2 separate regions of the Homo sapiens genome follow, and region 1 is linked to region 2. The links come from fine-mapping of genetic effects on gene expression. A gene starts in region 2. The other region holds a variant in brackets. All regions are shown on one strand. Distances are from middle to middle. Region 1 overlaps SORBS2 (sorbin and SH3 domain containing 2). Region 2 holds the start of SORBS2 (sorbin and SH3 domain containing 2).

Evidence for each region.
Region 1: its variant is fine-mapped to the expression of SORBS2 in aorta (GTEx, PIP 0.99).

Annotation. Positions count from the first base shown.
Region 1 is chr4:185,696,678-185,705,021 of GRCh38, reverse strand. The region is part of intron 3 of SORBS2 (sorbin and SH3 domain containing 2); the gene reads left to right. Among named protein-coding and RNA genes, the nearest start is that of SORBS2, 110 kb to the left of the region's middle. The variant G/A (reference allele first, on the strand shown) is at 4,052.
Region 2 is chr4:185,807,732-185,816,075 of GRCh38, reverse strand. It overlaps SORBS2 (sorbin and SH3 domain containing 2), which reads left to right and starts at 3,882. Exons shown (of 27, transcript NM_001395207.1): 1 at 3,882-4,412.

The DNA of each region.
Region 1 (8,344 bases), 110 kb after region 2:
CACGTTTATCTGCCATGCTGCCCCTACCTGTGTGACACTGGAACATCATCATCCATTTCGGATCCATTGCTGTTATGGGAAAGTGAAGCAACAGTATAACTCCTGCACCGCATGAGCTGGTCAGAGACTCCCATCTGCCCACTCTGTGTTAACCTGTGCCTAACCTATATCTGACCTGTGCAAAATCAAAAGGACTAGAAATGCTTATCTTTCATGCCCAAGTCTCTTGGGCAAATGAACTGTGGGACTGAGATAGAAGCATGCTGCCCTTCCCAGAGCTGAATGTTTCTTGTCTTATTTCTCAAAACATGGAGAGTTGAGGGAGAGGGAACATCCAGGGTAATTTGTGGAGTAGAATGGGCTCTCAAACTTTTTGATTAATGAATTGAATAATGAATGAATGGGCCAGGTGCGGTGGCTCACGCCTGTAATCCCAGCACTTTGGGAGGCCGAGGGGGGTGGATCACCTGAGGTCAGGAACTCGAGACTAGCCTAGCCAACATGGTGAAACCCCATCTCTACTAAAAGTGCAAAAATTAGCCAGGTGTGATGGTGCATGCCTGCGATCCCAGCTGCTCAGGAGGCTGAGGCAGGAGAAGAGCTTGAACCTGGGAGGCAGAGGTTGCAGTGAGCCGAGATCACGCCACTGCACTCCAGCCTGGGCGACAGAGTGAGACTCTGTTTCAAAAAAATAAATAAATAAAATTGTAAAAAATAATGAATGAATGATAGCATTCTCTGAGGTGAGGAATACTGGAAAAATGGGGTGAGGTTTGGGGAGAAGCGAATATCCTGACTCCAACATGAAATGGGAAATAAATATGAATTATGTCTGAATCGTAACTTAGACATACCAATTTAGAAATTGAGGTAATTCAGTGAGAGTCTAGGCTGTCTTTACTTTTGATAATATTAAAAGCTAGATTCTTAAGCAAAGTGCTAGCATACTTATACTACACAAAATAAACCTTTTTAGAAGCATTCATTCCATATGAATTGATGTTAGAAGTACAAATCATTCTTATGTATTCATTAAACTAGGACCCTGGAGGATTTATTTTAGGTGTTATTGCCTTGACCTAGAGTTAATCTGTATTTTTGAAGGAAAATACGTTGCCTTTTTTCACAAGCACTTTATAACTCACTTCTCCCTAATTCAGATTGCTTTTCTTAATCATTTGAAGTTAATGATACAATTATCACATAGTAGCCTTACAAATAGCCATAATATTAAATCATAATTTATGTAAAGTAAACATCCAAATTCCAAAACATCTGAACATGGGAACAGGCTGATTGAAGTTTTTGTGGGTCATAGGACCTTGGCAATTGTTTGTGAGCCTGATGCCGACATTTCTCAACAGTAATCAAAGCACAGAACAACAACCATCCACATGAAAAATAACTCAAATTGTCATTGTACTTCCCATGCTATTGTCATTTAGCAAGTTATGGCATGACTGATTCAGCCAGTAAGAAAAATGTGATGAGAATATTGGCTAGGAGTACAGTCTGCTTAGATCTTTTAGTTTTTTTTCCTTCAAAAGCCAATAGACTTTTACTCTTTAAAATAGGAGCTATGCAAAAACGTAATATTTGGAATGCCAAGCTGCCTCCATGATTGAGATACCTGTTTTGAAGTTCTCCTCTACTGTAAATTCTAACAGAATAAAAAAAGAATCAATGATTCTTGTTACCTCCAATGTACCTACCACACTACTCATGAAAAAAGCTTTAAAAATTAATGAAAATTGATGGACTGAAGTTCTGTCTGTTTCTTCTGGTGCAGATTTATAAAATGGATTCTATTTTAGGAACGATCAAATTCTAAAATTGAGAAGCTCAAGGGTAGGGCACTGGAGATAATATAGAAAGACATGTAATATATAAACAATTCTCTAGATCTTATATCTGGAGTTAAGTAAAGCAGACAACAAAGAGGGAGACAGCTTGGTTGTCAGGATGGTGGCTTGGACATGTGTTAATATGTACCCCATCTCATCATGATGCTATCAGAAGCACGGGTCTTTAACCATCTCCTTTTTCTGAATTTTAATATGTGAATGAGTCATTAAATATTGGCTTCCAGTTAGTTTCTGCTTGATATGTACAATCATGACAGTAGCATAGTGGTTTGCACATTAAAGGTCAACAAATGTTTGTTGGTTGAATATACCTTTCCTAGATTTAGCAAAATTTCAAACCATAAAAGTCCCTTATGTGCTTTTATATTTTAAATCAAGTCTTTCATGTTATAAACTTTAAAACTCAGGCTCATCGAAGTGAAGTGATTTGCCCAAGCATACCTTCCCACACAAGGCTTAACACCGACTCCCACTTTAGTACAATAAAAAAAAAAAAAGTCATGTAACATTAAGAGCACATACCTGGAAGTCCCCTAAAACATAGGTTGTTGAACTCTGACTCTGCCACTTCCTCGCTATTGATGTGTGCTATGGTCTGGATATTTGATTCCTCCAAATCTCATGTTGAAATTCGATCCCCAATTGGAGATGGGGCTTAATGGGAGGTGTTTGAGTCTTGGGACCAGATACTTCATGAATAGATTAGTGTCCTCCCTGGCAGAGGGAGAGTGAGTGAGTTCTTGCTCTATTCATTCCTGGGGGAGCTCCCTTGAGAGCTGATTGTTGAAAAGAGCCTGGCACCTTCCTGCTCTCTCTTGCTTCTGCTCTCGCCATGGGATCTCTGCACGCCGGCTCCCTTTAACCTTCTCCCCTCCACCAGGAGTGGAAGCATCATGAGGCCTCTCTAAAACCCAAGCAAATGTCAGTGCCATGCGTCCCGTGCAGGCTGCAGAACCGAGAGCCAAATAACCCTCTTTTCTGTATAGATTACCCAGCCTCAGGTATTCCTTTATAGCAACACATTGACTTAGACAAGGTATGTAGATATATACTTCTAAAGTGGCTTCTCCCACAAAAAAGAAATTTGCGGCCCAGCACAGTGGCTCACACCTGTAATCCTAGCACTTTGGGAGGCCGAGGTGGGTGGATCAGGAGGTCAGGAGATCTAGACCATCCTGGCCAACATGGTGAAACCCCGTCTCTACTAAAATACAAAAAATTAGCTGGGCGTGCTGGCACGTGCCTGTAGTCCCAGCTACTCAGGAGGCTGAGGCAGGGGAATCACTTGAACCTGGGAGACAGAGGTTGCAGTGAGCTGAGATCACGCCACTTGCACTCCAGCCTGGCAACAGAGCAAGACTCCGTCTAAAAAAAAAAAAAAGAAAGAAATTTGCTAACTTTTTGGCCCATCCATTATTGTTTGCCCTCTCCCAATATGAGTGACATTTTCTTACCCTCTGCTCTGTGTTAGGAATGGCAGACAGCCAACATCCCAATAATAATAGTTCATGTTAACATTTTCTATGTACTATAGAAAAGCGATCACTCCACTCAAACATAATTAACTAGAATCAATGTAAATGCATGTGGTCCCAGCGTGGGTTCTGGATTTCCTTTACCAAATGCTGCAGCACAGATGACAAAGTGCTTTTACGCTCCATTATAAAAGAAGAAATGGAAATGAAGTCAGTAGGTATCAGATCAGAAGTCAGTGGGTATCTCTGTCCATGAAGATGTCCACACAGACATTCTCTACCTGTGGACCTGAAGGAGAACAGGCTGAGTCCCAGGGTAGAGTCGATGCGAACAAGAGGCCCAGGTTGGATCTGTAAGGTGATCCATGGCCCTGAGCATCATGGCAGACTACCCTGGAGCTAAAACCAGGCTGCCCTGAAAGAGTTCGTGTAGTTGGGAAGTCAAAAGGAAATTTTTCTGCTTTTCCAAGAGTGGCAAAAGTCCAAGATAAAAGAAAGAGTGTTGAGAGTTTATTTCTGTAGATAAAAGGGGGAGAAATGGCTAATAAAGATCAGACTGAGTAGGATTTCACTACATATGTTAAAATATGCCAACTAACAATCTCAAAAAGTGTTCTGATCATTTCTACCTTTAGCCAGTACGTCAAATAAGTTAGAGTATTATGAAACAACAAAAACTTTGTTCAAATAAGCTTCACTGTTCTCCACTGT[G/A]TAACTGTGGAATATAAATTTGTATTTGTATGTTGTTTTTCTTGCCTATTTTTGGTGGATTGAGTGAAAGTTTTAGCTTTAAATAGTGGCAGAGCATGAAGGACTATATTAGGTATGAAAAATGAAGAATGCTGGGAACATATGTGGGGGGTAAGAACTAGAAGTGAGGTCATCTGAGTTGGCATTTTGCTGAACAAAAGGGCAATAGACACCACATCCCATTTTGTTGTACAGTTCTGAAGTCTTAAACCCCTTATTTCTAGGATGGACTTGTTTTCATTCTTTCTGATGACAATTGTGAACCAGATGGTTAAAAACCCAGCACTGAGAAACAGTCTTATTTAGATATTATGTTTCTTAAATTCAGGTACATCTTGAGGGAATATTGAAGCTTCTAGCTGCAACTGTTATTTATACATCTTCTTGTCAATTTAAAGCATAAATTTGGTATATTTAAGAGCATTAACCCTAAGGGCCACTGGGATGAGTTCCACGAGATGAAAGAAAAAAATAAACCTCAAGTACATGTCAGTAACTTTTCCTGTTGCTGCTGGTAGTCACCTGGAAACTCACCATAGTGTCTCTACCATATCGTTCTGTGACCCTCCCCCCACCCAGCACAGCCTCCAAAGCCTGCCTAGAGACTCAAGTTCATGCCAGCCTGACTCACGCACAGACTCATGTGGACACTTTAAAAGTGAGGCAGCTGGAGCCCAATCTTCCTTGATTCATGAAACCACTGTTCATTTAGACATTGATTTAATTATATTTTTCAACAATTGCATTAAAGCCCTTAGACTTATTCCATATAAATTTTTGAAAAGCCAGTCTCTTCAACCTAATCATGAAATTTAGTTTAGCCAAATTTAATTCAGCCTGTCAAGATCATCTTTCTACTTATTACCTATTCCCCTCTCGTGTGTATGCCTTCTGCAGAATCAATAAACACACCACTTTGTTTTTCCCTAAAATAAAAATGTTGCAGACACAGTCGGAACAGGGTACTCCTCAAATTGAGTACCTTTTATTCACCTATGATTCTGCTTAACACTTGTACATTTAGTACATAGAGAAATGTAAAGAATTTTTTCAAATGTCTGAATAACAATGGAGCAGCAGTATATAAATATTAATAATACATTTCTGAATAATACATTTCCATTAAAATGGAAGATATCTGTCTTTATTGTCTACTTTTATTAGATCCCAAAGAATAATGTAATAAACTATCCACTGTTCAACACAAATATCAAAAGTTTCCAACTTTTAATGCATTCAAAATTTCTTCAGATGATATTTTTCCTCCATTGGCTTATTATTTTCTCGTTCAAATTTTCTAAAATGAATCAAACTGCCTTAAGATGTACAATTTAAGATACATTCTGGCCAGGCATGGAGGCTCACACCCATAATCCCAGCACTTTGGGAGACCAAGGCGGGCAGATTACCTGAGGTCAAGAGTTCGAGACCAGTGTGGCCAACATGGTGAAACCCCATTTCTACTAAAAATACTACAATTAGCCTGGCATGATGGCACACACCGGTAACCCCAGCTACTCTGCAGGATGAGGCAGGAGAATTGCTCGAACCTGGGAGGTGGAGGCTGCGGTGAGCCGAGATTGCACCACTGCACTCCACCCTGGCCAACAGAGCGAGACTCTGTCTCAAAAAAAAAAAAAAAAAAAAGGTACATTTCATTCTGGATAAACTTTGTAAGTAATGTATTACTTAAATTTTAAGACTATAAGATCAAATTAGAGCAAATTTTCCCCTGCCCCAAAATTTAAATTCCACATAGCAAGTGGGATTTCACCATTGCATATCTGAGACACATATAAACATGAATTTGTAATAATTCTGACAGTATATTCTGTCAAAAATTCTGACAAACCTTGACATTGCTAAAGTATATAAATGTTATTTCAGGTGCTCAGGAAACAGGTGTATTCAATCAGAAGAAAAGTGTGGCTTTTTAAGAACAGTGAATTAACAATAAGCAGGCTTATTTCACTGTAATACTTTCACCACGTAACATTACCATGAAAATAATTTAAAATAGATATACTTACTAACTGAAAATTCTAAGGATTTCAGAAAAAAAAAATCAATGGCTATTGGTCTAGGCTTAGACCAAGGAGGTCTAATATGCTTTGGGTTTAGTAGACCTGATTAACACTTTCCATTTGGACTTGTGCTGTGATTGGGCAAAAGGAATCCTTGTCATAATCAACCACTGTTTTCCTATTAGTCTTAGAGGAAGAAACATATGGTTCTATGTTAACAGTTCTTATTTTATTTATCAAACAGTTTTGCCTTCTACCACACCGTCTTCTCATATTTTGTTCTTTTCCCTAACCCCTGCCTCATATGATTCAGTACTTAATTAAGCAGGGTACTGTAATATTTTAAAGGGAAAGAGCTTGATTTCCTATGTTGTTTTTCTGTTTTGTGTTTTGTTTTGTTTTGTTTCATTTTTTTGAGATGGAGTCTTGCTCTGTCACCCAGGCTGGAGTGCAATGGTGCGATCTCGGCTCACTGCAACCTTCGACTCACTGCAACCTCCACCTCCCAGCTTCAAGCCATTCTCCTGCCTCAGCCTCCCACGTAGCTGGGACTACAGGCATGTGCCACCATGCCCGGCTAATTTTTGAATTTTAGTAGAGGCAGGGGTTTCGTCATGTTGGCCAGGCTGGTCTCGAACTCCTGACCTCAAGTGACCCTCCTGCCTCGGCCTCCCAAAGTGCTGGGATTACAGGCGTGAGCCACTGCGCCTGGCCAAGATCTTGATTTCAAATGACGTTTTAAGATTCCTTAAAGGAGGATGCCTATTATTTGCTAGGAGTCAGGAGAGATGAACTACTTTTGAGTATCTGCTTGGGGCATCCATTTATCTTATCCTCAAATGTCTAACCCTAAAAATGAGTTGGTTGATCTCAATCCCTACCAGAGCCTTTGATGCTTGCTTCTACTTAAAGTCTAAGTATGAGACATGCAAAACTAGACTAGATTACATAATTCTTTTGATATCAGATGATTTTTATATTTCAATATATAAAAATTAAAACGGAAGATTTTAAAATTAAAAGCAGTGAGAAACTTAGCAAAGCATAAAATTTTAAAAAATGGTTCTTTAAAAAGATCAAGGCTTTTCTCCTCAAAATAGAAATGTGTGCTTCTCAGTACAAGGTGGGAAATCAGAGGCACTTTCCCTTATTGAATTAAGCAGGAGTAGGCTGCCATCAGGATGTTATCACTCTGCAATTTGTCACACAATTTGTTATGTGACATTTTATAGACATCTCTTTCCATTCAGCCATCGCTTTCGGCTATCAGCTGTCAAAGGGAAAGAGAATGATTTTTTTAAAAAAGCTAATCGTCAAAACCTTTATAGTGTCACTTTCCCTTAGATCCAGTAGCATTGTCTATAGCTGGGCTAGAAGGCAAGGGTTTGATTCAACTATTTTCTTAGGTTTTCTCTTGTTCATGGCAATGTGTGGGGGGGAAAATCTTAGCTAAATAAAGGATCTTTTTAAGGAAGAAAGAAAGCTGCCTGGAAAGTAGAATTCCTTTTCAATTCCAACATGTTGCTAAGCTGGGTGTGGGACAATTGGGAGACGGGAAAATCCATAGAAATCAGTCTAATAAACCATATGGCTTGCTTCAATCTAAAGCAATACAATAATGCCCCATGTATTTTCAGGAAAGTCTAGATTATCTTCTTAAGACTCAATCAAAGGTAAAGATCTGCTTCAAAATATTTGAAATATTAGTGAATGGGAATAATGCCAGTTTGCCAGATTGGGGATGCTTTGCTGTCTAGCGGGGGAGTCGATGATAATGACATTGGTATAAATTGTTCGGATGCATAGAAATGGGCAGAACTGGGATTTGAGTCAAGCTTTGCCTATTTCTTGACCCATTCTTCCAACGCTATTCAGTTTGCCTATACATGTGTTATAGGGATATTCTAATTAATTCCTCACATGTCTCTTTGATAAGGTGCCTGACTTATGAGATCCTCAGTCAGAATCTGAATTATTTTCATTAGAAATTTTTTTGGCTTTTGATTTGCACATTATAAGCCAATGGAATTCTCCTAATACTGTACTATCAAGTTGAACAAATGACTTAGTCTTAGAAAAAAGATGCACTTGAAAATACTTAGATGTTGTTCCGTAATGATCCCTAAGATTACAATATAAAACTAAGGAACTCCATGAAAGTAGGGTGGCTAGGCACAGTGACTCACACCTGTAATCCTAGCACTTTGGGAGGCCGAGGCGGGTGGATCAC
Region 2 (8,344 bases):
CTACCAGAGTAGCCTCCTCAGAGTAACAGTAATGGTAGTAATCACTTTAGTTACTCCATAACTTATTAACTTCTTTAGTTTCAACTCTGATAAATAGTTATGTCTTCATCAACTAATCTTAACCTTAACTCTGTGTCTATTCTAAACACTATTTTTATTCTCATTTTATTTCATTTTTTAAAACTTTGTATCTTGAAAACAAATCAAACTTATAGAAAAGTGCAAAGAATAGTAAAATAAACTGAAAATATTCTCATTTAAGATTCATCAGGTGTTAGCATTTTGCACATTTGTGTTTGCCTTCCATAGATGATACACAGATGATAGATAGGTAGATTGATTGATGTGTAGGTGTGCATACGGTATAACTTAAAATAGAAGCTAGATAGATAGATAGCTCTCTCTCTCTCTCCATATATATGTGTGTGCGTATACTATTAGAGCATATATATGTGTGTGTATATGTATTCTTTGATGATAATATATTTGTTTGAAAATCCTTCTAAACAAATATTTGTCTTAGAAAATCATATTATGGTGTGGTATTCTACGCTTTCATACTGAACATAATTTCTGAATGGAGATTTTCACACACATTCTGTATTTTCATTTCATAATAAAAACCAAAACAACTAGCAGTGTGAATTATAGGGTTCCCTTTATATGTTAGTGGATATCTTAATAACCTTTAATAATATAACAAATTTAATTATAATGTTTAAATATATATAAAAAATACCTTTATGACCACGTTGTTTAAAATTCCACACTAAGACAACAATCTCAATAGAGAAAACAGGCAAAAGCTATGAACAGAAAATTTACAGAAGAGGGAACCCTGAAAACCATCAACAATGAAAAGATGTTCAATTTGTCAGTAATTAGAGAAACACACATTCAAACAATAATGGGCCATTACTCTGCACCTATTATATTAGCAAAATTTTAAAACTAGATAATGCCAAGTGTCCTTGTCATAGCTGATTGGACCAAGGCACAGGGCAGCCCATGTATAAAGCTGCTGGCCACATAGGTGGTATCTCACTTGACTCAGAAAGATGGGCTGGAAAAATCAGATTTGTCTCTTGGAAATCTGTATCTAGCACATTTTAAAACAAACACGTTTGGAAGGAGAATAAACGTCAGGGACCTGGGCTAGGGCAGGGCCTGAGGTCAGAGCAATGCCAATGGGCCTCAGTGCACCAAGTTACAAGGGAGGGGCTTCGAGCAGGCGAAGGAGCCAAGAGCCTTGGAAGAACAGACTGGCAGCAGAGTGATGTGTGAAGGCCAGTAGAGATGCCGGGAGACGTGCCACGGGGCAAAGAGGGGAAAGGGATTCATCTCAGTTCCTGCCAGCTTCCCAGTTCCGGTTCAGTGCAAACTGGGGGACTTCCAGTTCTCTTTGGAGGAGCAGGAATTGGAGGTATAGGGGAGGAGGAGATACAAGAAGAAGGATGAAGGCCTTTGAAATTCCAAAGGAAAATGACTTCAGATATTTGTTTGTTTGTTTGTTTGTTTGTTTTGCTACTAAAAACAGAGACAGAGTCTCCCTCTGTTGCCAAGCTGGAATGCAGTCATGTGATCACAGCTCACTGCAGCCTCGACCTCCCAGGCTCAAACATTCCTCCTTCCTCAGCCTCCCGAGTAGCTGGGACCACAGGCGTGCACCACCATGCCTGGCTAATTGTTTGTTTGTTTGATTTTTTTTTTTTTTGTAGAGATGCAGTCTGTTGCCTAGACTGGTCTCAAATCCTGGGCTCAAGTGATCCACCTGCCTCAGCCTCCCAAAGTGCTGGGAATAAAGGTGTGAGCCACGGCCAGAGATTCTTATGCCTTGCCAACCAATCAATCAAGTGTGAGGGTATAAAGACATTTTCAGAGATACAATGAAAAGAAAAGCCACCCTAAAACATCAAGTGCACCTAGAGTTTTCTTGATATCCTTTTGTAACATGCCAGCATTTTGTCAAAATCACTGAAGTTCTTCTGAAGTGATGAGTCAACAAATGTGTGATGTTGAAAAGTAAATTAAAACACAGATTTCACACCAGCCAGTCATCAGTCCCTATTCATACAGTGTCGTAGGTCCTCATTTAGAGGCATTGAGAAATTAGAATATTCCAAGCATGGAGGGCAAAGAAGACATGGACCAGATTGGCTTCCAGAGAGTTGATAGAACAGTCTGGGAGTCAGACATAAAAGGAGAACTGCTAAGAAGTCCCAGGGCGTGACAAGGCCTGTAATAGCAGAGGTGGACCCCGGTACAGGGGAGTCGCAGAAGAGGTCGCTCAGACCCCACCTGGGAGAGTCATGAGTGAGGTGGTCCATTTGGGCCAGGTGTTGGAAGATAAAAGAGGAGGCAGATTGGGATGGAGGTTAAAGGTGCTGGGGCGAGGAGCAGTCAGATTGAGAAGGTTTTTAATAGTAGCAGCATCTGCAGGGCAAGGAAATGGTGTGTAATGCAGGATTCTGAAACGTGGGCAGTGAATAGTAGAATGGGAGGCTGAGGGCGAAGGCAGGGGCACGCTCAGCAACAGCAAATGCAAAATAACTTCAGGGAAGGGAACTTCAGTGAGAAAAGGTAGGCTGGCTGGAGGCGATCTGAAGCGGTGAGGACTCTCCCAAGCAGGAAAGCGCCACCCACTTGTCCTCCATGGATACGCTGACCCTGGGTGGCTCAGACCTACCTAATGTGAATCCGGTTGGGGAGGAAGGGGAGCGGGCATCCCCAAATCTACATCCACAGGATTCCTATGCAGTCAAAATTTGGGAATTAATACTGAAGGCAGGAGTGTTAACATGGGTAGGGAAACGCAATACTGACGGAATCCTAAATCAATGACTACTTAGCAAATAGAACATCTATATTTACAAGTCCAAAGTGTTAACATAACTATTTGAAACAGATTGCTAGAAACAAAAATAAATGGGACAGTGCCTTGGAAATATATCAGATAGAATATGACTGGTGATAGAGTCCTGAAAAAGAAGAAAAGCCTGGGGGTTCTGCAGAAGATTTACGTTGTTCATGGCATTAATCATGGTAGATTCCCAGAGGAGGTGAAATGTTATGGACGGGTGGAATGTGATCCATTTTACTGAGGAAGTAAAACTATTCTTGCCTTGAAGGTAATGTTTAAAGTCAAAGAATTTTTAATTAGGTGCGGATTTTTTAAAAAGAATTTTTAATTTACAAATAAGATTGAGTTAAAGAATCATTTTCTGCCGTAGAAGCAATAGGATTTTTTAAAAATTCTATTTTAAATTGCATAAAAAGCATCTTAAAGTAATCAGATAAGTTGAGCCATAAGTAAATGGATATTTAAAGATCTTATTAAAATAGTCTACCTGATTTAGTTATTATTCTGACCCTATATAGCAATTCACAGGGTTTTGTTTCAATTAAGTGGCTCTAAGATTATCATTTAAAAACAAAAAGTGTAACTCTCCCGTTTGCAGCTCTCTGCACTCATTCTATGACTGGAAGGTGGGGCTTGTTTTGACAATGCTTCCAGTTAGGGTCTCTTAAGTGATTTGCATGTTATTAACCTGGATAGCCACTAATAGGGCTTCACTTCCTCGATTTCATACATAGCCCCGGCTCATATAAAAAAGAGTTCTTCAGGAGAGCAGAAAAATCGGAGCACTTGCACTATCGGTGAAATGTGTAGAAAGATAACAGAAGCTACCCTCCTCAAAAAAATGATGAGTTTGATGAAAAGAAATTAACAAGCTGTGTGAGTGTGCTGCACATGATCAGCCATGCTTGCTAAGTCTGTCTGTTGGTTGTTGCTATGGCTACGAAAAGCCAGTGGAACCCAATGAGCTGTCTGCAGCAGAGCTGAGAGGACCAGCCATTTTACTTATGGAAAACAGTGTGGCATATTCTGCTGAGCTTCGCCCTGGAAGAAGCCTCTTTTATACATCTCTTCAGGGAAGAGAGAAGCAATGGGCATGTTAGTATACAATGATCACAGCCACGCAGGCCTGCAAGCTGCCTTTTGGACAGGCTGTTGACTGCCGTTCCAATTAGCTGATTGGAGAATGTGGAATGCAGAGTGATAATGCTGCATATCTGCTATCAGGCAGCAGCAAAGGTTTTTGTCTTGGGAAGGCAAGCTTTCCCTGCAATATTATCTCAGCAGCTCCCTAGCTGCTTACCCTGAAAACGAGGGATCCAAACGGAGGGTGTTGCACTCTGCTAACGCTGGTCCTGTGCGTGGCTGTGGCATATGAGCGGCAGGTCTGAAAAAGCAGGTGTGTGCTGGGACGGGCACTGGACTGGAACGCAGGCGGACGCTCTCGGGTTTACCTGCTTCCTGTTAACAGATTGTGGGCTCCCAGGGCATATGTCTGCACGCTGAGGCCGAGGCGGAGAAGGGGCTTCCTGAGCGTCCCAGTACACTGACAGAGGTAAGCTTTTTTGACCTTTTTGAAAGCACAGCATAAAAATAACTGGGGCAAAACTTAGCCTGAAAGATTTACGTTGATTGTGTGATTTGGATTTACCAAACAAACATACACAGACACATACACACACGCATACACACACATTTCTAGAAAATAGTATCAGAGACATAGAGTTGTTTCAGTGAATTTTGGTTCTAGCAATTGGAAGATAAAAAACATGACCGATATGCTTTGGGGTTTTAAAACCAATATTTACTGTTTGAGCAGACTACGATGGCTTGTTCTGAACCGTCCTCACAGCCAACAACATTTCTCGCTTGTGAACAATGGATTCTTTCGTGACCTGCACTTTGACTTGTATTCAGAGAACTACATGAAAAAGAACTACATGAGAAGCATTTCTTTTTAAGCCTCGTAAATGATTTATTTAACTCTTAACACAGCTATGTACACACTTAAATTGAAGAATTCTGTTCTCTATGTGGGTCATAATAGCCAGTGGATTTTGTACTTGCTTACCCTGGACTGAGTGTCTTGGTGTCCTGTTTGATTTAGTTGGGGTAGTTGTAAAGCAAACAGTGTAGGTATTGGAAGCCGTTCACACCTCCTTTCCGAGTATCTGCATGCCTTGCTGGCCCAGAGCACAAGACCCCCATTGTGCTCCCCCGGCTCAGAATCCAAGGAAAGAAAGGAAGCGAAGCCTCTGCATTGAGTTCTAGGACAGCTGAGGTATGTGGCAGTAAAACTTCTTTTCTTGCACAATTTTTCTCACAAGCAGATAGGTTTCAGAGATAAAGAGTGAAACCAAAAACACCGCACACCTCATCCAAATCTGCGCTCATACTTGCAGCAAATGTTTGCTGTCAGTTGCTTCATAATAACAGCACAGACCCCGAATTGCAGGAGGAATTGCCTGGTAGTGAGTATTTCCTTGATTTATAGTCTCTTAGGAACAAAGCTGTTACTGTGGATTGAAACTGGTCAGTCAAATCAAAATCCCTGGTAAGAAAATGACGGAGTAAGGATTAGATTCTGGTTCAGCAACATTTCAGCTTTACTCAAGTCAGTTCTTTGGTTGTTTTGTTACCAAAAATGTCAGATCACTTATAATACTATTGAAAATATTTAATAAAAATGTTTGGTCAAAAACTTTGAACAAAACCCCTATCTACAAAAGATGGAATCTACTGTGAAATTTAAAATAAGTAGTAACTGAGATCTACTTCTAAGAAGTATATTTTTATTTGCTACCTTTTTCCTCCAAAATCTGGATGACATGAGTCTCTTCAGAATTTTAAGTATAATTTTCACTGATAGATATGGGCAGGAACCGCCTGTTTCAGAGATGTAGCAATGTTCATAAGCCCTAAGATAAGAGAATGCTAAAGCAGTAGGAGAATAGTTTTCCAAACTTTTGTTCTAAATGTCAAAATAGTCAAAATATAAAGATAGAGACTAAGAATCTCAGTGGAGCCAAACATGTGCAAACGTTTGGTGATAAGTGTACGCCTATGCGGGTTGTAGGGGATAAAATGGTGAGGTGACGGCCTTGTACTTCATTATGTTTAACATTCAAAGGAAAGCTAAATGAACAGACTTAGTTCTGAGTCCAATTCTATGAGCAAAAATATCAGCTAAGTAAGGGATTCTATATGAGCTGAATGAAAGGTAGAGAAAATCTCTCTCCAATTTAATTTCCTTCAAAGCTTTACACTGCCAAAGGATTTCTTAGAATTGACACAGTGCAAAGACCTGCAGCAAGCACCTGATTTCCTATTAATTTTTCTTGGGGGAGCTTTTAGAAGAATGAGGTGTAGAAATATCCAGGGCACACCCGACTGCTGTGCCTGTTGCATTGATAGTGGCACCAAGTGAGACAAGACCCTTAGCCCACGGGAGGAATGGCACACACTTTATACCTGTGCAAGTTCTTTCCTATTTTAGTAACCTTTTAAGATGACATGCTATACACAGATGACCATTTTAAGTTCAATTCTGTACAGCGCATCTCCATAGTTAATAATTCAACAATTTTGAGAACCAGGTTCAGAGACATAATCTCTATCCTTCAAGACTTTGCACTTTCGCTTATGGCTATTTTTAGACCCTTATTTTCTGCCACTTTCCAACTCTTCTGCTGGCAATATCAAATATTTTGGAATTTCCAAAACATACTATATCAGATTTTTTTTTTTTTTTTTTTTTTTTTTTGCAAATGCAGTGCCCCCTGAAGAGTCATTTCCTTTAAATCTCCCCTGCAAGGACAGCTGCTTTCATACGCCCTTCAAGTCCAGCTAGACATCCCCCCTCACTGTCCCCCACCCTGCTTGGCTACATCTGAATCTTACTTCTGACTTTCTGTCTGCTGAACCATATTGCATTTGTCCCTGTTCACAGCCTTCCAGAGCTTTGCTGGCCTCTGATTCTAAAGTACTTTGTCCAGTGTCCAGAATTTTGCATTCAGACATTGTACTGGTAACCTCAGACTTCAATATTTTCCTATTAGTTACTGTAAATATAGACTTGACCTAGAAATAGAAGTCCTAATACTGCCTTTTATCAAGGAAACTTAAAACATTTGAAAAACAACAATGAGGCTTTCATTTTTCTGATTTGAAAATATGGCTTCAGGATCCCAATTTCATAAAAGCTACAACTGTCCTATAATAAATCCAAATTTCCCGAGGGAAAATTTTACAATGTATGTTTTAAACAAAACAACTTGAATGTTTTAGTATATAAATAATACTATTTTTCTATCCATGGCTATTATAAAATGTATAGAAAATATCCCTATTACAAATTTGTTATGGAATCAGACTGTTTAAAACTAATGTTGAGTTGATGATGATTAGTAGCCGATTATAATGTAAGACACTTATGAAGTTGTTTTTCTTGCTGAAACCAGAAGAAAGTAAAGGTCGTGAACTGGAAAGAGATTAAATAATTGAAATGAAGTCTACAATGGCAGCATTTCTTTTAATGTTCCTAAGTAAACCTAAAAGGTGACTGGAAATCACTAGTTACGTTACACTAGTTATGTTACCCTACAACTTGAGTACCTGGGTAAGGGAGAGAATATTCTCTTAGAATCACTCTTGATATAGATATAGGTTTGTTTACAGAGACTTCCTACCCTCTGTTCTATATTAGATAACATTATTAGTATTTTTTAAATAAGCCTGATTTCAGTAGCCTTTTTATGAAAAAACTGCCACAATCAAAAATAAGAATGTACCCATAGTTTTATTAAGAAGTTATAAATACATAATTCCTTGTCTTTAAGATATCTGTGTTGAAAGCAAAAGTTCTAATTAATACTGTATGAATTTTTGTATATAAAGTAGAATTGATGAGGAAGTTTAAAATATCCTGATATTTGGGATTAGAAAGTAAAATATTTAGGAAATTATTTAAATTCATATTTCTTGACATTATTGCATTCATTCCAGCATTGAGTTTTCTAATAAAAGTAAGATAAATAGCAATTCTTAATTATCATGCTGTCCTTTAAAGCTTATTTTGGCTATCTTCCAGCTGATTTTAATGTACAGCATGCTATAATTAAATAATAGCTAAAGTTGGAATTGGTTCTATTCATCTTAAAGACTAATCATGTTTAATTATTTTAAATTGCATATAGTAATTAGATTTCAGAAACCATGATTTTGTAATATGCCTGTACTGTTTCTAACATTTTCTATTTTAAGTCATTTATAATATTTTTAAAGGTCTCAGTTATGTCTAACTACATGGATAGCATAATGAAATGAGTTGCACTTGTATTTTATAAAGAAGACTTGTGATATATGATTGCATTAGATAATTTTCTGGAAGTTCCTCAAACTAACAATTTAATTATGGATATGCCTGTTAAATCCTAAACTGCCACTGTCACGTGGAAAAATACAGATAAATATGTTTTCAAAATATGT